Homo sapiens: one gene and its partners. The protein of the gene in region 1 purifies or fractionates together with the protein of each later gene. This does not show direct contact. Each region holds a gene or a part of one and is shown in the gene's direction. Other genes may lie near its edges. The genes, in order: ARHGEF18, EPB41L5, AKAP13, GART and ENAH.

Evidence for each region.
Region 2: the proteins of ARHGEF18 (region 1) and EPB41L5 purify together in Homo sapiens (co-immunoprecipitation; one large-scale study listed by IntAct). This does not show direct contact.
Region 3: the proteins of ARHGEF18 (region 1) and AKAP13 purify together in Homo sapiens (affinity purification with mass spectrometry; one large-scale study listed by BioGRID and IntAct). This does not show direct contact.
Region 4: the proteins of ARHGEF18 (region 1) and GART purify together in Homo sapiens (affinity purification with mass spectrometry; one large-scale study listed by BioGRID and IntAct). This does not show direct contact.
Region 5: the proteins of ARHGEF18 (region 1) and ENAH fractionate together in Homo sapiens (co-fractionation; one large-scale study listed by BioGRID). This does not show direct contact.

The regions. Positions count from the first base shown.
Region 1 is NC_000019.10:7,376,247-7,379,942, forward strand, and holds part of ARHGEF18 (rho guanine nucleotide exchange factor 18), read left to right. Parts: intron 1-396; coding exon 397-511; intron 512-2,147; coding exon 2,148-2,205; intron 2,206-2,875; coding exon 2,876-2,920; intron 2,921-3,696. UniProt on the Homo sapiens protein: Acts as a guanine nucleotide exchange factor (GEF) for RhoA GTPases. Its activation induces formation of actin stress fibers. Also acts as a GEF for RAC1, inducing production of reactive oxygen species (ROS). Does not act as a GEF for CDC42.
Region 2 is NC_000002.12:120,089,395-120,093,090, forward strand, and holds part of EPB41L5 (band 4.1-like protein 5), read left to right. Parts: intron 1-952; coding exon 953-1,122; intron 1,123-2,160; coding exon 2,161-2,267; intron 2,268-3,696. UniProt on the Homo sapiens protein: Plays a role in the formation and organization of tight junctions during the establishment of polarity in epithelial cells.
Region 3 is NC_000015.10:85,383,452-85,387,147, forward strand, and holds part of AKAP13 (A-kinase anchor protein 13), read left to right. Parts: intron 1-224; exon of another isoform or gene 225-284; intron 285-611; exon of another isoform or gene 612-659; intron 660-755; exon of another isoform or gene 756-946; intron 947-3,696. UniProt on the Homo sapiens protein: Scaffold protein that plays an important role in assembling signaling complexes downstream of several types of G protein-coupled receptors.
Region 4 is NC_000021.9:33,507,445-33,511,140, reverse strand, and holds part of GART (trifunctional purine biosynthetic protein adenosine-3), read left to right. Parts: intron 1-1,220; coding exon 1,221-1,358; intron 1,359-3,696. UniProt on the Homo sapiens protein: Trifunctional enzyme that catalyzes three distinct reactions as part of the 'de novo' inosine monophosphate biosynthetic pathway.
Region 5 is NC_000001.11:225,642,930-225,646,625, reverse strand, and holds part of ENAH (protein enabled homolog), read left to right. Parts: intron 1-3,696. UniProt on the Homo sapiens protein: Ena/VASP proteins are actin-associated proteins involved in a range of processes dependent on cytoskeleton remodeling and cell polarity such as axon guidance and lamellipodial and filopodial dynamics in migrating cells.

The DNA.
Region 1 (3,696 bases):
GCTAAGGAGAATTTGTGTCTGACCTGAGATCCCAGCTCACACCTGAGGAATGCATGCTTGGAGCTGTGGCTGGTGGCTGAGACATCTTTGGCTGTGATCACAAAGGACCCTGGGGGAAATTCCTGGCCATTGTTGGAAGCTGTGGCTCTGATACCTGGGGCTCCAGCTCAGAGCTGGAGGCTCCTCCGCCAGGACTACAGCCCTGTGGCTGGGGAGGGGGTGGCTGAACCCATGTCTTATGGCTGGGGGGAGTGGCTGGAGGCTGAGGCTTGGATGAGTGTGTCACCCCATTTCTGTGGAGGTGGCCCTGGCTGTGGGTTGGGCCCCTCAATCCAGGGAACCTGCCTGCAGTCCAGGCTGCCTTCCCAGCTTAGTGAGATGTTTAATCCCCTGCAGGAATGTGACAGCCCCAAGAAAAGAGGGAGGTCAAGGTCCGTTCCTGTGTCCTTCTATGAGATCCGCTCTCCGGAAATCTCTCCGGGTTTGGAAGTGCCCACTCCACCTGTTCAAGGTAGCCAGCCTGGGAGTTTCCTTCATTCAAACCAAGTCAGGGAAAGAGGAGCCTGGCCAACATGGTGAAACCCTGTTGGGGTTTCATCCTTCATCCTGGAGGGTCCCCTTGGTGGGGCTCCAGATGGGCCCCAGGGAAGGGAAGGGAGCTGGCTTAGGGTCCCCTGGGCAGGGACTGAGCAGAACGCTGGGGGAAGCCAGAGAGGGGAAGGGACCTCCAGCATCTGTCCCTCCTCCTCTCCCTGCAGCTCTTGAGCCAGTGTGAGATTGCCCCATTGCAATGAGCTTGTCCCCAAGATTCTCTCTTCTCTCTATGACTCTTTTTTTTTTTTGAGATAGAGTCTTGCTCTGTCGCCCAGGCTGCAGTGCAGTGGTGCAATCTCAGTTCACTGCAACCTCCGCCTCCCGGGTTCATGCCCTTCTCCGGCCTCAGCCTCCCAAGTAGCTGGGACTACAAGCACCCGCTACCATGCCCGGCTAATTTTTGTATTTTTAGTAGACACAGGGTTTCGCCATGTTGGCCAGGCTGGTCTCAAAGTCCTGGCCTCTAGTGATCGGCCCGCCTCAACCTCCCAAAGTTCTGAGATTACAGGCATGAACCACCGCGCCCAGCATTCTGACTATTTCTTTATCTCTTTCTTTATCTCTGAATTTTTATCCTGAGATCTTGCACCTCTCTGGCATCAGACAAACCTGGAGTCTAAACACATAACAAGTCTCTGAGCCTCTGTGGCTTCCTCTATTAGAACAGGTGCAGCAGCTCACACCTGGAATCCCAGCACCTTGGGAGGCTGAGGCAGGTGAATAACTTGAGCCCAGGAGTTTGAGGCCAGCCTGGGCAACATGGCGAAACCTTGTCTCTACTAAAAATACAAAAAACAATTAGCCAGGCATGACGGTGTGCACCTGTAGTCCCAGCTACTTTGGAGGCTGAGATGGGAGGATCACTTAAACCCAGGAGGTCAAGGCTGCAGTGAGTTCTGATGGCAGGACTGCGCTCCGCTCTGGGTGACAGAGTGAAACCGTCTCAAAAAAAAAAAAAAAAAGGCCTGGTGCGGTGGCTCACGCCTGTAATCCTAGCACTTTGGGAGGCCGAGGCAGGTGGATCACCTGAGGTCCAGAGTTCGAGACCACCCTGGCCAACATGGTGAAACCCCGTCTCTACTAAAAATATAAAAACGCAAGAATTAGTCGGGCATGGTGGTGTGCGCCTGTAATCCCAGCTACTCGGGAGGCTGAGACAGGAGACTTGCTTGAACCCAGGAGGCGGAGGTTGCAGTGAGCTGAGATTGAGCCATTGCACTCCAGCCAGGGTGACAGAGCGAGACTGTGTCTAAGGAAAAAAAGGGGAGGGGGGACAATAAGCGTATCTCCTTCAGGCCACTTGGAGAGTCTGCTGATCTCACACACGTAAAGCACTTAGTAGGTTGTAAGCACTCACGAGACACTGGGGACACCTGCGTTTGTCCCTGGCTCTCTGTCCTCTTCTCGTCTCTGTTGCCTGAGAGTACAGGCCCTGTCTGCATGGCCTCCAGTTCTGCAGGGGCCCAGGGTGGCATCCGGGAGGGCTCTGCTGGGCTGGTCCTGTCCCAGAGCTCCTGACAACTGTGCTTCCTGGGATGGGGGGCTTCTTCCAGGCCTGGAACCTCCAGTGCTGGAGTGCATGGAAAAAGACCATGTGGAACCAGATCACGTGTGAGTTTCTGCCTCGTGGTGGGGGAGGGACCCCCAGGGAACAGGCCACAAAGTCAGGGCTGCGGGAGGAGGGCTGCCAGGGTGCAGTGTTGCTGGCCATAAGTGACCAGGGCCAGACACCATCCCACTAGTCCCCCCATAACCTCATCTTTCTGCCACCATCCTTCTCCCGGTGGGAGGGACCCAGGCCCCTCAGAAAGGTTCTCAATGTAGCCTTGGGAGACAATTGTGGCTTTTTTTTTTTTTTTTTTTTTTTTTTGAGATAGGGTCTCACTCTGTCACCCAGGCTGGAGTACAGTGGCGTGATCTCAGCTCACTGCAGCCTCTGCCCCCTGGGTTCAAGTGATTCTCCTGCCTCAGCCTCCAGAGTAACTGGGACTACAGGCGCCCGCCACCACGCCCGGCTAATTTTTGTATTTCTAGTACAGACGGGGTTTCACCATGTTGGCCAGGCTGGTCTCGAACCCCTGACCTCAGGTGATCCGCCCACCTTGGCCTCCCAAAGTACTGGGATTACAGGCGTGAGCCACTGTGCCCGGCTGACTGTGGCTTTGAGTAGGGTCTGCATCAGGACCTGAGGCCTGCTTGGGCAACCCCAGCTTATCTAGGGGAGAGTGTCTGTAACCTGGAGCTACCATGGGCTGTTCTAATCCCACCTCCACCCCCACAGGCTGATTGTCCAGCAGGTGCTTCAAGAACTTCGACAGTACCATGGGTAAGTGGGAATCGGGACAGGCTTGAGGGGAGCAAAGTGGGAGACAAAAGCAGGAAGCATGCAGGGGTGTGCACAGGTGTAGGAGACAGGGGTAGAGAAGACTGGGTGAGGGCTGGGTACAGTGGCTCACGCCTGTAATCCCAGCACTTTGGGAGGCTGAGGCAGGCAGATCACCTGAGGTCAGGAGTTCGAGACCAGCCTGGCCAACATGGCGAAACCTCGTCTCTACTCAAAATACAAAAATTAGCCAGGCGTGGTGGCACGCACCTGTAATCCCAGCTACTCAGGAGGCTGAGGCAGGAGAATTGATTGAACCCAGGAGTTGGAGGTTGCAGTGAGCTGAGACTGCACCATTGTACTCCAGCCTGGGCAACACAGTGAAACTCTGTCTCAAAAAAATAGAAAAAAGACAAGGCTGGGTTCAAGGGAAGAAAAATGGGGCAGAAGAGGAGGGAGGAGGATAGAAGACAAGAGTTGGAGAGGAGCAGGCTGCCACTGGCATAGGGGTTCCTTGGAGCAAACAGGTGAAGGTGCCTCCTGCCTAAGACACTGCCATCTGTTACAAAATCTTCCTGTAGCTGGATGTGGTGGCTCATACCACTGTAATCCCAACACTTTGGGAGGCCAAGGTGAGAGGATCATTTGGAGGCCACGAGTTTGAGACCAGCTTGGGAAAGATAGTGAGACCCTGTCTCTACAAAAAACATTTAAAAATTTGCTGGGCGAGGTGGCTCATGCCTATGATCCCAGCAATTTGGGAGGCTGAGGTGGGAGGA
Region 2 (3,696 bases), on another chromosome or scaffold:
GTAACTTTTTCCAAATATTAACTCATGTTAGAATTGTTTTAAAAACTTGCATAATTATATATATTTGCAGCTTGCCTGTTTTATCTAAACGTGTACCTATGTAGATCTAACATATATATATGCTATTGTGTAATATGAATAAACAATAGCACATTCATTCATTCATCATTTATTCATTTATCCCTCTGCATAATTTTTTACATATGCCTCTATTTACTTGACCATTTCTCTTTTTTTGGACGTTTAGGGTTTGTACCAAGTTTTACTATTATAAATGAGACTGAGGAAATATACATCTTCATATATAACTTTTGATGTTTAGGAAATAATTTTCCCCAGAGAGGCAGTATAACTTAGTTGTTAGAGGTGTATGTAGATTCTGGAGCAAGACTAATGTTTAAGTTCATTTCCGGTTTTCTTTCTTAATAGCTTTGTGATTTTGGGCTTAATTTCTTTGAGCCTCAGTTTCCTTATCTATGAAATGGGGCTAATGATAGTATCTACTCATTGAGATAATTTATGTGAAATCCTTAGAAAAATTTCTATATGAATGTTAACTATTATAATTAGACTCATGGCAGTGTGATTACTATGACAAAAATGTGAGCATTTTTAGGGCTGTTGATGCATACTGCCAGATCTGATATGATTCCTCAAATTATAATTATACAGTTATCCCAAATAATGGCAGATAAAATCTCATTTTATGTCTCTCTCACAAATGAGATCATGTAAGTAGAGGGGAATAACTCCTAGGAATAATTTTGTATTGGCTGATAAAATGAGCAACTTGATTTCAGCTCTGCCCTTATTATGTTGATACTATAAAGAGTGTCTGAATTTCAGGGAGCACACTAGATCCTTTATTCATGGATGTGTTTGTATCTCAGAAATAGGAGATAGGACTGTTTGAATTAGTAATCATCCTTTTATATATACTTTTCTTTTTCAGGGCAAAGAACAGGAACATACATTTGTCTTTAGACTGGATCATCCAAAAGCATGCAAACATTTATGGAAATGTGCTGTGGAGCATCATGCTTTCTTCCGCCTTCGAGGCCCCGTCCAAAAGAGTTCTCATCGATCAGGATTTATTCGACTAGGATCACGATTTAGATATAGGTTAATTTTAATTGCTGTTTTATCTGTCTTTCATTGCATACAGGCCAAAAAATTTAGGCCAATCTTCTCTTTTTTACAGATATGGTAACTAAGGTATAGAGGAATAAGGTGGTTTGCCAGAGTCTTCCATTGGCCAAAATAAAATAGAAAAAGTGGTATTGTTATTGGTTATAATTTCTTGAATAGATGCGTAAACAGTAATTGTATAATGGCTTTTATATCCCTCTGGATGTTTACTTTATATATTAACCCACTCCCAGTTTATCTATTTAACAAGAGTTTTATGGACTCTCCACCCACCACTGGATACCATATAGAAAAGGGTTTCTTGCACTGAATGGGATATTAGTCTGGATAACATTTGTGGTCCTTTATAAACCTGAAGGTCATTATTCTCATGACTCCTTGTTTGTTGTCATGAGTTAGAAATGTTTTGGTTTACTGCAGAGTGGATTATTGGTTGTGAGTTTTCTGCATGCCATGGAAATCAGTTAAAGAAGGAATGGATTGTACCAATAATGTGGCCAGTTGATTGTGTGGAGTTAATAGAAGTAGTACTGTAGTCTACTTATATTAAAAGTAAGGAGGCATTTTCTAAACAGAATTTAAATGGAAATCAAGGAGAATAAGACAGTAGTCTTAAAAAACATTTCTGGAAAATTATACTGAAAAGTGAATATCACAATTAGAAAAAGTAACTGAAAATATTCTTTTAATTACACACTTTGCACTGAGGAATGTAGATGGGAAAGAGAGGGAGTTTCCATAAAAGGACAGATATTTCAAACTTATTTAATGTGTACTTAGGTGATATGCATGCATATGAGAAAAATAAAACCAACATAATCTGTTGCATATTTCACAAAAGCCGAAAGAATGATATGGTAAAGAGAGAGATCGAGACTATTAGTAGCTGTTCCTGTGCGATGAAGTTTAGGATGATTCTTTTAAGGAGAACCTGAATGTGGACTGTCTTATTTGTGTGTGTTTATTACTGTAGACCTAAAATTTCCCTTACTTCTGTTATGCCTCATTTAGTGGGAAAACAGAGTATCAGACCACAAAAACCAATAAAGCAAGAAGATCAACATCCTTTGAAAGAAGGCCCAGCAAACGATATTCTAGACGAACTCTACAAATGAAAGGTGAAGTGCAACCCTCTTTCAAAGGATTATTTTTCCTTGGCAATTAATTATGTGCTGGTGTTGTTTCCATAAGAGGAAGTTACCTGAATCTCCTCCTCAGGTCTGTTCCAGTCAACTAAAGTACTTTTCTGGCAGAATCAATTTCATGGGATACACAGAGAAAAATTGCCTGTATTGTTAGCAGAGATTAAACTTTATGTTAATCCCAATTCAAATGATAGTCTGAGGTTATGTTCAGTTTTTGTATACAAAACTGTTTCTGTAGAGCAACATATTCTCTCCCTTTTTGACTTACAGATCTCATTCTAAAACATCCCTTAATCCCCTTAGGAATTTTTAAAAACATTTTTATTTATTTATTTATTTATTTATTTATTTATTTATTTTGAGATAGTCTCACTCTGTTGCTCAGGTTGGAGTGCAGTGGCATGATCTCAGCTCACTGCAACCTCCACCTCCCAGATTCAAGTGATTCTCATGTCTCAGCCACCTGAGTAGCTGGGATTACAGGCATGCGCCACCACTCCTGACTCATTTTTGTATTTTTAGTAGAGATGGGGTTTTGCCATGTTGGCTGGGCTGGTCTTGAACTCCTGACCTCAAGTGATCCACCCACCTTGGCCTCCCGAATCCTAAAAGGATTACAGGCATGCCTGGCCAAAACATTGTCTTGTGATGAATTTTTTTTAAGTAAAATTTATTTCATATTGTATTATAATATTAAGGATTGTATTAAATACCATTTTAAAATATATTCATCATTGTTATACATAGACATTTCCTAATTCATAATTGTTACTTGCTGATTAAGATCAGTTATATAAGAAAAAGCACTATTTACCTTGACAAATAAATTAAACCTTGTGTTTGGTTTTAAACTGAATTTGCATTAAAATGAATTTGCATTAAAATGCAAATTTAATTTTAAGTATTTCCACTGTCAGAGTCATCACCAGTTGTCCAAAAACAGCTGTAATGATCTGATGTTTGGCAGTATTGACTTTTTTATAAAAATGATTTATACTCATAAGTTTTGGTGTGGCTGTAAATTAAATATACAGCTATAAATGAATTGTGATGATTTTAAAACCCTAAGTTTCCTCTTGGTTTCCACTGATGATAATTCATAATCAGTCAGCTCACTCTGGAGGCTTACAGATTGGTTCTGTTTAAAAGGAGGAGATATATATGCATTGTATTGCTTTATTTGAAAAATGAAAATAATTGCCATTGTTGCCTCTATGGTGTGAATCCCAAAACACTTTGGTGAATTGAAGGTTTTTAGATTTATGGTTGGGGCCAAATGTGGTGGCTCACACCTTTAATCCCAGCACTTTGGGAGGCCAAGGTGGGAGGATTGCTTGAGCCCAAAAGCTCAACTCTTAGGAGTTTGAGACCAGCCTGGGCAACAGTAGTGAGACCCACCCCT
Region 3 (3,696 bases), on another chromosome or scaffold:
TATTACCTAGTAGCTGTAATGATAATAATTTTGGTACATTTTTACATGACTTAAGCATTCTTAAAAGTCTGATGCTTCTGAGTGTAGAGGTTTAGCTATTTCTTTCATAAAGAAGGGGCCTTGAGACTTGTGAGTCTTATCGAAGTCTATTTCTTCAAAGGTGCCAGATGAACTGAAGGATAATGGAAACAATAGCGAGTTTATCTTCTCAGTCACCTGTGAGTCTTCCTTTGAGAGTGGGACTTGCAGAGTGGCTTGGTAGGGTAGAGCTCTTTGTGACTATGCTATTTGGGCAACAGTGAGAGATGGATTGTTTTCAGTACATCAGTCATAAGAGGATATGAGTTCCAACTTTATTTTACCTTAGTCTTGGCAAATAAGTGTGGATTGTGTCTGTATTTCTCAAACTTGTTTAAGGTAGAGCTGGACTGGGTGTTAACAGTGTTAGTTCAGTACAGAGACATGAGCAAATCACTCACTTCCTCTTCAAGATAACACTTTAAAGGTGACACCATTTACAGAAGAAGGCAGTGATTTAAATCAGTTATACTAGCATAGTTTAGAATACTTACACTACCTAGATGGAGTAGATACATTCTAGAAATATTTACCTGTTAAGGACATTTCTTTAGATTTTATTCCATCTTTCCATTAGTTTTCTGATGAAGAGATTATAGTAAACCTTTAAAAATTATATTTGATCAAACTTACAGATTGAGGATAAACCTTTAAAAATTACAGTTGGTCACACTTACAGATTGAGGGTAAAAACATTCCTGACAAAGCTAGGCGAAGAAAGTTGGACTTTTGATGTTCCCTTCTTTTAAAGTTAACATCTGGCACTTGAATAGACTTGGTTATTACTGATGGGGACAGGCATCCATTTGGAAGTAGCTTCCCTCTCTCTTTCCCAGGTTAGGCTGTCTTACTGCTGTAAATGGGGAGAGACGAGAAAGCTGTGGGTGGAAGAAAGTTTGTTTCATAGCCTGGCGCAGTGGCTCACGCCTGTAATCCCAGCACTTTGGGAGGCTGAGGCGGGCGGATCACTTGAGGTCAGGAGTTCAAGACCAGCCTGGCCAACATGGTGAAACCACATCTCTACTAAAAATACAAAAACTAGCCCGGCAGGGTGGCAGGTGCCTGTAATCCCAGCTACTTGGGAGGCTGAGGCAGGAGAATCGCTTGAACCCGGGAGGTGGAGGTTGCAATGAGCCGAGATCATGCCACTGTGCTCCAGTCTGGGCGACAGAGCGAGACTCCGTCTGAAAAAAAAAAAAAAAAAGGTTTGTTTCATGCATCTGTCCTCACTGGTCAGTGGAAGAAAGTTTGTTTCCTGCGTTTGTCCTCATATTTATAGTTTTCTCGTCCACCTACAAGTTGATTGTGACGTTATGAATAGAAGATGAATGGATAATGTGTTTTTGTCAGACCTTGCTGTAAGGATGGACCTGGTACTGAAATACCGTGATTGTATGAACATTTGTGTGGGGCAATGCTGTGTTCAGTGCCTGGGGAATGTGGATATCAGTGTGTTTGTATGATATGGGTGCTAGTATGGGAGAGAAGGAAAACGTGTGAGGTTTTTGACCATTTATGTCACTCTGTAAGCTCTTCTCTGGCTACTTTGGTGCTATAGTAGCAGAGTTGAGTAGTTACAACAGAGACCATGTGATCTGCAAAGCAGAAAATATTTACTATCTGGGCTTTTACAGAAGTTTGCTGACCCTTTTTCTACATAACCAACTGCAGTTATTCACAACAAGAAAGATTAACGTTAATTCTATAATATTATTCAATACCTATTCAACTTTCTCTATTTGTCTCCCAAATATCTTTTATAGTTGATTAAGAAAAATTTTGGACAGAGTAAAATTAAAGTTCACTCAGCACATCATTATGTCTCTTTAGTCTCTATTTTTTCATTCTTTAATTATTCATATGTATAGTTTACATTCACTAAAATTCCGCCATTTTAGTGTAACATTCTCTGAGTTTTGACAGGTGTATACATTCATATATCCACTGCTGCAAACAGGACAGTCCCTTCATCCTCCAGAATTCTTCTGAGCCCTTTTGTACTCAACCGGTTCTCTACCCCCAGACTCTGGAAATTGCTGATCTGTTTTCTGTCTCCATGGTTTTTTGCCTTTTCAAGAATGTTGTAAAAATGGAATCACACGGAATGTAGCCTTTTTATTCATTTGCCCAATGACTAATGATATTAAGTATCTTTTCATCTGATTATTTGTCATTCTTTGATGTCAATTCAAAATCTTTTGCTTAAAAAATGAGTTTTTGTATATACTTTGGAATCAAATACATGATTTGCAGATATTTTCTCCTAGTCTGTTTTTACTTGTCTTAATAATGTCTTTTTTTGTTTGTTTGTTTCGAGATGGAGTTTGGCTCTGTCACCTAGGCTGGAGTACAGTGGTGAGATCTTGGCTCACTGCAACGTCTGCCTCCTGGGTTCAAGTGATTCTCCTGCCTTAACCTCCCGAGTAGCTGGGATTACAGGCACACACCACCACACCCAGCTAATTTTTGTATTTTAGTAGAGATGGGGCTTTTCCATGTTGGCCAGGCTGATCTTGAACTCCTAACCTCAAGTGATCTGCCTGCCTCGGCCTCCCAAAGTGCTGGGATTACAGGCGCGAGCCACTGTGTCTGGCCTTCTTGTCTTAATAATGTCTTTTGAAGAGCAGAAGTTCTTAATTTTTATGATATCCAGTGTTTTTTTGTTTTTTTGTTTTTTCCCTGAGTGGATCATGCTTTTGGTATAATAGTTTAGAAATCTTTGCCTAACTTAAGAGCTCAAAGACTTTCCCCTATATTTCCTCCTACAAGTTATTATTTTTTTTTTTAGAGATGGAGTCTCACTCTGTCATCCAGGCTGGCGTGAGTGAGATCTTGTTCACTGGAATCTCCGCCTCCCGGGTTCAAGTGATTCTCCTGCCTCAGCCTCCTGAGTAGCTGGGATTACAGGCACCCACCACCATGCCTAATTTTTGTATTTTTACTAGTGATGGGGTTTCACCATGTTGACCAGGGTGGTCTGAACTCCTGACCTCAAGTGAGCCACCCACCGCAGCCTCCCAAAGTGCTGGGATTACAGGCGTGAGCTATTGTGCCCGGCTCGCCTAGAAGTTTTATCATTTAAAATTTTATATTTACATTTATTATCTGCTTTGATTTAATTTTCCTAAATGGTGCAAGGTATGCATTGAGTTTATTTTTTTGTGGATGGATTTACAATTTTTCCAGCAACAGTTTTTGAAAAGACTGTCCTTTCTCTGTTGATTACCTTTGTGCCTTTTTTTTTTTGCAAGTTGATCATAAATGTGTGGTTTTGTTTCTGGATTCTCTCTCCTATTCCATTGATCTGTGTCTTTCATTTCTCTATCACCTCACTGTTGATTACTGTCACCTTAGAGTAAGTTTTAAAATCAGGTAGTGTGAGTTATCTTATTATTTTTCAGAATTGTTTTTTGGGTATTTTAGTTGCATTGCCTTTTGTGCATATTTTAGATTCATCTTGCTGTTATCCACAAGTCCTGCTGGGTTTTTCTTTTTCTTTTTTTTCTTTTTTAAGATGAGGTCTCAGCCGGGTGTGGTGGCTCACGCCTGTAATCCTAGCACTTTGGAGGCTGAGGCGGGTGGATCACCTGAGATCAGGAGTTCGAGACCAGCCTGGCT
Region 4 (3,696 bases), on another chromosome or scaffold:
TGGCAACTATCTTTACACAGATGTAACATGACAGCACCCACCCCAGCGATACCACGTATCTCTTCATTTCTGCCTCAGAACTAAGCATTCATGCATGCACAGCCACACCCCACAGGATCGCTTCCCAAAGTAATCTCCCTACACACAAGACCTCATGGCTCTGCTGTCACTCAGCTCGATTCAAGGAATAGCGAGCAAGCACCCTGACAAGTACTGTATCAGTCAGGACTCTGCGAGAAGTGCTAGAACTTGGCAGAGGGGCAGAAAATCCACTCAGATTCACTAACAAAGACGTCACATGCTTGCTTTGGCAGGACACATACTAAAATTGGAACGATACAGAGAAGATTCACAAAAATAAAAAATAGAAAAAAAAAATGTCAGACCTTGTTGACTTTACCTGTATCTGCCTTTCTTTCCTCTATTGTGTAGGATTCATTTTCAAGCGGGTTCTCCAAATGCCGGAAAGATAACATCCTTCAGCTCACATTACAATAAGAAAGAGAGACCCAGCCGGGCGTGGTGGCTCACGCCTGTAATCCCAGCACTTTGGGAGGCCGAAGCGGGTGGATCACGAGGTCAGGAGATCAAGACCATCCTGGCTAACTCAGTGAAACCCCGTCTCTACTAATAAATACAAAACATTAGCCGGGCGTGGTGGCGGGCGCCTGTAGTCCCAGCTACTCGGGAGGCTGAGGCAGGAGAATGGCGTGAACCTAGGAGGCGGAACTTGCAGTGAGCCGAGATCGCGCCACTGCACTCCAGCCTGGGCAACAGAGCGAGACTCCATCTCAAAAAGAAAAAAAAGAGAGACCCTCTTTTTCTTAACATCGCATATCAAGCCTTTAAATGGCTTTGCTAGGTCACATGCTTATCCCCGAGACCAGGAGATCATGGCACTACTGTGGGTGGTCTCGCTAGGAAGATTTGGGGAGTAGGGGCAGAATACTGGCAGGCAGTCATATATATCCACCGTGCACTTCAAGATAGTGATGTGATCTGCAGCTTTTAGTTGAAGTAATTACATATGTTCACCTTTTGGAAGTTTTTATGAAAGAGTAGTGTTAAGTGATACAAATGTGTTGTTCATTTTAGTCCTTGCATTATCTTATTTTCAGGATAAAACATACCCTAAAGTTTTCATAAAATATTTTTCTTTCCATTATTCTTGTTAATTCACAATTGTTCTTTACTTATTTATGGATATGTTTGAAATGAAGGTTCCCCACGTGTGAAAGTCAAGAATCTGATTGAAAGCATGCAAATAAATGGGTCAGTGTTGAAGAATGGCTCCCTGACAAATCATTTCTCTTTTGAAAAAAAAAAGGCCAGAGTGGCTGTCTTAATATCTGGAACAGGTGAGATGTGGCTTCCCCTTCACTGTAGAGCTGTTGACTGCCCTTCCTTTCCTCCCCGCACTCTTGTGAGATTGTAAGGTTACTCTCGGCAGAGTCTAGGGACTGGGGGGAATCATGAGGGTTGTCTTTGTCTTTTCAGCATTCTTAGTCTTTCCACTTTTCTTAGGAATTTGAGACAGCTCCCAAAGAAAAAAGTAAAGGATGTCAGAAAGCTGGTTAAAGAGAAACCAGAAAAGATAGAAGCTACAGCTCATTTTGTATCATAGCTTTGTTGTTGAAAAGTCTGAAAACAGTTGAGGAATTTTTATTGTTATCTTATTAATTAGAAGAAGTTTATGTTTAACCTTTATGGATAGAGGGGTAAAGTAATAAGAGTATTGTATTCTCTCAGATGGATGTAGCCTGATTTTTTTCCCTCTATTGTAAGTAACACTGCTATGAACATTCTTGCAAATATTCAGTATGTTCTTAAATGCATATGTGATTTTTTTTTATTTGATGGCCAAGATCATAGTGATTCTTTTTGAGACAGTCTTGCTATGTTGCCCAGGCTAGAGTACAGTAGCTATTCACAGATGCAGTCATAGTACACTGCAGCTTCCAGCTCTGGCCTCAAGCAATCCTTCCGCCTTATTAGCCCCCCGAGTAGCTGGGACTGCAGGCATGCAGCACCACAACCAGCTCTGATACTTCTTCAGGATTCATTCCCAGAAGTTTAATTGCTTTACAGGTCGATCTTAAGGTTTTAATGTACTTTAGGCCCAAGTTGATAATAAAGCAAAGAAGCTATTGTAAGATGCAGCCATAAAAAAGAATAAAACCACATCATTTGCAGCAATATGGATGGAACTGGAGGCCATTATCCTGAGTGAACTGCCTCAGAAACAGAAAACCAGATATTGCATGTTCTCACTTATGAGTGGGAGCTAAACAGTGGGTACATGTGGACATAAAGATGGAAACAATAGGGCCGGGTGCTGTGGCTCACGCCTGTAATCCTAGCACTTTGGGAGGCTGAGGCGGGCGGATCACAAGGTCAAGAGATCGAGACCATCCTGGCCAACATGGTGAAACCCTGTCTCCACTAAAAATACAAAAATTAGCTGGGCATGGTGGCACACGTCTGTAGTCCAGCTACTCTGGAGGCTGAGACAGGAGAATTGCTTGAACCCTGGAGACAGAGGTTGCAATGAGCTGAGATTGCACCACTGTACTCCAGCCTGGAGACAGAGCAAGACTCCATCTCAAAAAAAAAAAAAAAAAAAAAGATGGAAACAATAGATACAAAACAGGGAAGTGTGGGAGAAGAGGTGAGGGTTGAAAATTTTTCTATCAGGTATAATGTTCACTATGTAGGTAATAGGTACACTAGAAGCCCAGTCCCCACCATTATACAACATTCCCATGTAATAAACAAGCGTGTGTACCCCCGAATCTAAAATTTTTTTTTTTTAAAGAAACTATTGTAAGAGTCATAGCATAGTGGTTTGTTCTTGAGAGGGTCAGTTTTTCTTGCTTAATTAAGCAGCTTATTTCTCATCAGTCAGTTTTAACATAATGTTATACTGTTTCTACTACAATGCTAGATCACAAGATACAGAATTTGTGGGAGCAATTACATATCCTAGGAGCAATTACATATCCTAAACCACGTCGTTTGCAGCAATATGGATGGAACTGGAGGCTATCCAGGAATATCTGTGCTTTTCACAATCTATTAATCCATTATCCCAAGAGGAAGGGAGTTTTTTTAATTTTTAATTTGTATGGGTACATGGTAGGTATATATATTTATAGGGTACATGAGATCTTTTGATACAGCCATACAACCTGTAATAATCACATCCCTGTAAATGGGGTATTCATCACCTCAAGCATTTATTCTTTGTGTTACAAACAATCCAGTTATTTTATTTCAGTTTTTTTTTGTTTTGTTTTTGTTTTTGTTTTTGAGATAGAGTCTCACTCTGTCGCCCAGGCTGGAGTGCAGTGGCGCAGACTCGGCTCACTGCAAACTCCGCCTCCCAGTTTCAAGTGATTCTTCTGTCTCAGCCTCCTGAGTAGCTGGGATTACAGGCACCTGCCACTATGCCTGGCTAATTTTTTGTATTTTTAGTAGAGATGGGGTTTCATCATGTTGGCCAGGCTGGTCAGGCTGGTCTTGAACTCTTGACCTCAGTATGATCCGCCTGCCTTGGCCTCCCAAAGTGCTGGGATTATAGGTGTGAGCCACCACATCCAGCCTCTTCCAGTTATTTTAAAATGTGTAATAAATTATTGTTGACTATAGTCACCCTGTTATGCTATCAAACACTAGATTTTGTTCATTCTAACTATA
Region 5 (3,696 bases), on another chromosome or scaffold:
TTAGTTGAGATGGGGTTTCACTGTGTTAGCCAGGATGGTCTTGATCTCCTGACCTCGTGGGATTACAGGTGGGAGCCACAGCGCCCGGCCTAGACATTTATTTTAAGGTTCTGGAGGCTGGAAGTCAGAGATCAGGTTGCCAGTATGGATGGGTTTTGGTGAGGGTTCTCTTCCTGGCTTGCAGAAGATATCCTTCTCTCTGTGTCCTCACATGGTAGGGTGGGTATGGGAATCCTGGGGTCGGGGAGATGAGGGGGGATTTCTCTCTCCTCCTCATTTCATAAGGCCATTAATCCTATTGAATTAGGGCCCTGTGCTTATAACTTAATTTAACATTAGTTACCTCCTAAAAGCCCTTTTTCCAAATAGAGTCACATTGAGGGTTAGGGTATTAACATATAAATTTTAGGGGAACACAGTTCAGTCTATAGCAGAAGATAACTACATTTTTTTTTTTTGTCAGTGCATACAACTTTGGAAGAAAATAATTTGTTTAATATTTAGGTGAACTTTAGATAAGTTTTGTTTTAAGTAACCAGAAGTTGTTTACTAAAGAAGATAAATTAGGGGGGTTGATTGATTTATACAAGATATCCGTTAAATTTTCTAGAAATCTCTTTACACTGGGAACCTTCTATTTTACAATGATTAAAGTAAGTTTTATTAACAGGCAACTTTTCCAAAGACTACTTTGGGTATGAGGCAATGTATGTATATCTAAGTGTAGAGATTGAATGGTGTAGGGTAAAGAGGACAGGCTTTGAAGTTAACTCTGGGTTTGACTCTAGTTTGACATTTACTAAATAATTTATTTTTGAGTGGGTTATAAACATTTTTTGGGATCGAATATACTTTGTGAATTATAGAGCTGTTGAGAAAATTAAATAAAATTCTGGCATAACACTTGGCACACAAAATGAGCTTGATAAGAGTAAATCCCCCACTTTTATGAAAGTCTGACATCTCTTAAGTTTATGTTAAGAATGTGAAAAACCATGTAAGATGGTGCAGCTGCTTTAGAAAACAGTTTGGCAGTTCCTCAAAAGTTAAACATAGAGTTATCGTATGACCCAGCAATTCCTTTCCTAGAAATGAAAACATTTGTCCACAGAAAAACTTGTACACAAATGTCTATAGTATCGTTATTCATAACAGCCAAAAAGCAGAAATAACCCAGGTGTGTCTGATTTCATGAATAGATCATCAAAATGTGGTATGTCCATACAACAGAATAATATTTGGCCATCAAAAGGAATGGAATTCTGATACATGCCACAGCGTAGATGGAAGCATTATGCTAAGTGAAATAAGCCAGACACAAAAGGCGATATATGCCATGATTCCATTTATATGAAATGCCCAGAATAGACAGATCTATATAATAACACCAGAAGATCTCATTTGCTTTTTACGTGAGTTGTTTCTGACATTTTTATTACTTTGGATTAATATTTTGAATTGACATCTTCGTGCTATTTAAAGAAGAGAGATTGAAGATAGAACCACTGGACATTTCTCTGTAGGGAAACAAGCACGTGGGAATGCTGAGGTGGAAACCTTGGTAGTGGTGGCTTTGAAAGGCCTGAACAAATTTTGGAGCTGTATCTTCGTGCTAAGGAGACAGCCAGCCATCTCTTTGGTAGGCCTGTTGTAAGTAAGGATGACTAAAGTCACCAGTAAAATGTGATGAAGCAAATCCATCAGAATCTTCAGAAAACTTAAATCTGGGTGGTGATTTTCTGGGGTTTGTTTACAGTAGTCTCAAATACCAAAAGTTTTGTCTTTGGGGAATGAGGTAATCATGATATTTTTAAATAAACTGAGCCCTTTTCCAGTGGTAAAGGCCTTATAGAACATCTGGTCTTGGTAAGAATACATCTGATGATGTGAAATCAAAATGACTACCTTTAACTGTGCCTTAGAGGTCCTCAGTCTTCTGTCCTTTTTGGTATCTGTTACATTTGCAACTTGGCAGCGGGGGAGCTTTATGAAGAACCAAGAACTTAAGTAAAATAAAATGAATAGCTCTTGAGGTCAAATCTCAAGGGAGTCCAAATTGCTCCTTTTACAGTTCAGTGAAGGGATCTTTTTATGCAGTCTTAATAATTATTATATACTGGTTATTTGAATATCTGCTTTGTTCTGCAGTCTTTCTCCTCCTCCCCCAAATTCTCATGTTAGACTGATATTGCAAGCAAAATTGTGACCGTTCAGTTTTTAACAATTTAAGATTTATGTATCTTAAGTTTTCATTTAAAACTTTTACTTACAGTCTACTTAATTGTGGTCTTTGCACAATTTTTTTAGAATTATTTTTAGAAAAATAAATCAATTACTGTTGTCCATATGTCTGGTCAGTATTTTTTTAAATTACTTTTTTCCTTCCATTGTAAAGTAGTACAGATTTTGAACAGATTTTAGAAGGTATGGAAAGTATAAAACATTTATTTATGAAATGTTAAATCCAAGCCATCTAGTATTTTAATATTTTAATGTGTAGATTTCTAAACTTTTTGTAGTGCATTTGCAGCATTGCAGATCATTGTGCGTGTGCATATGATTATATATAAAAGTAAGATTATACTATTTAAAAATGGAATTATACTATATTTGTATTGTGTATTTTGTAGCTTGTCCCTTTCCATATATATAATATCTATACTTTTTACATTTTATTATTTTTATTTTTTAAATAGGGTCTTAAACTGTCACCCAGGCTGGAGTGCAGTGGTGCAATCATAGCTTACTGCAGCCTCGAACTCCTGGGCTCAAGCGATCCTCCCATCTCAGCCTCCTGAGTAGCTGAGACTACAGATGTGCGCCACCACACCCTCTAATTGTTAAGATTTTTGTGCAGAGACAAGGTCTCGCTATGTTGCCCAGGCTGGTCTTGAACTCCTGGCCTCAAGTCATCCTCCCACTTCAGCCTCCCAAAGCACTCGGATTACAGGCATGAGCTGCTGTGTCCAGCCAGTAATTCTTGTTCCTAACTATATAGCTACATAACTTTAAGTGACTGCATAATATTCCATTGCTTTGGATGGATGACTTTGTCTACTTAAATCTTAAAGATGGACTTTTAGATTTGTTCCATTATTTTTGTTATTATAAAAAACACTGCTGTGAACATCTTTGGTTATATGTCTTTGTGTACATATCTGATACTGTTTTAGGATACATTCCTAGAAGTAAAATCAAGAAGTAGTGCTGTGTTTTGTTTTTTTTTTTATTTTTTGTTTCTTTACCTTTCTGTATCCAGTCTATCATTGTCCTACCAGGTCACCTTCACTTGCTTCTGTCCATCTCACTGCCTCAAGTCCAGGCCACTGTTATCTCTTACCTGAACTATTAGTGTTTCCTCATTTCCATTCATGTCCCCTGTTCTTCATGCATCACTCAGAATACTCTTAAAGTGGAAATCAGATATTGTTATTTCCCATGTAAAGCCTTCAGCGGCATCTTAGACTAAAACCCAAATTTGTCATAAAACCAAAATTATTAAGGTCTTGCGTGACCTGGCTCTGCATTCCAAGTTCCCAGCACAGGCCTCTGTGAGTATGCATAAGTATTTGAGTGAATAATAAACAAAATGACTAAAGGGAGTTGTATCAGTTTTTGATACACGTTACCAGATAAGCAAGAGTAGATGAGATTTCTAGTTACCCCACATTCTGGCCAGCTCAGGCCATTATCGGT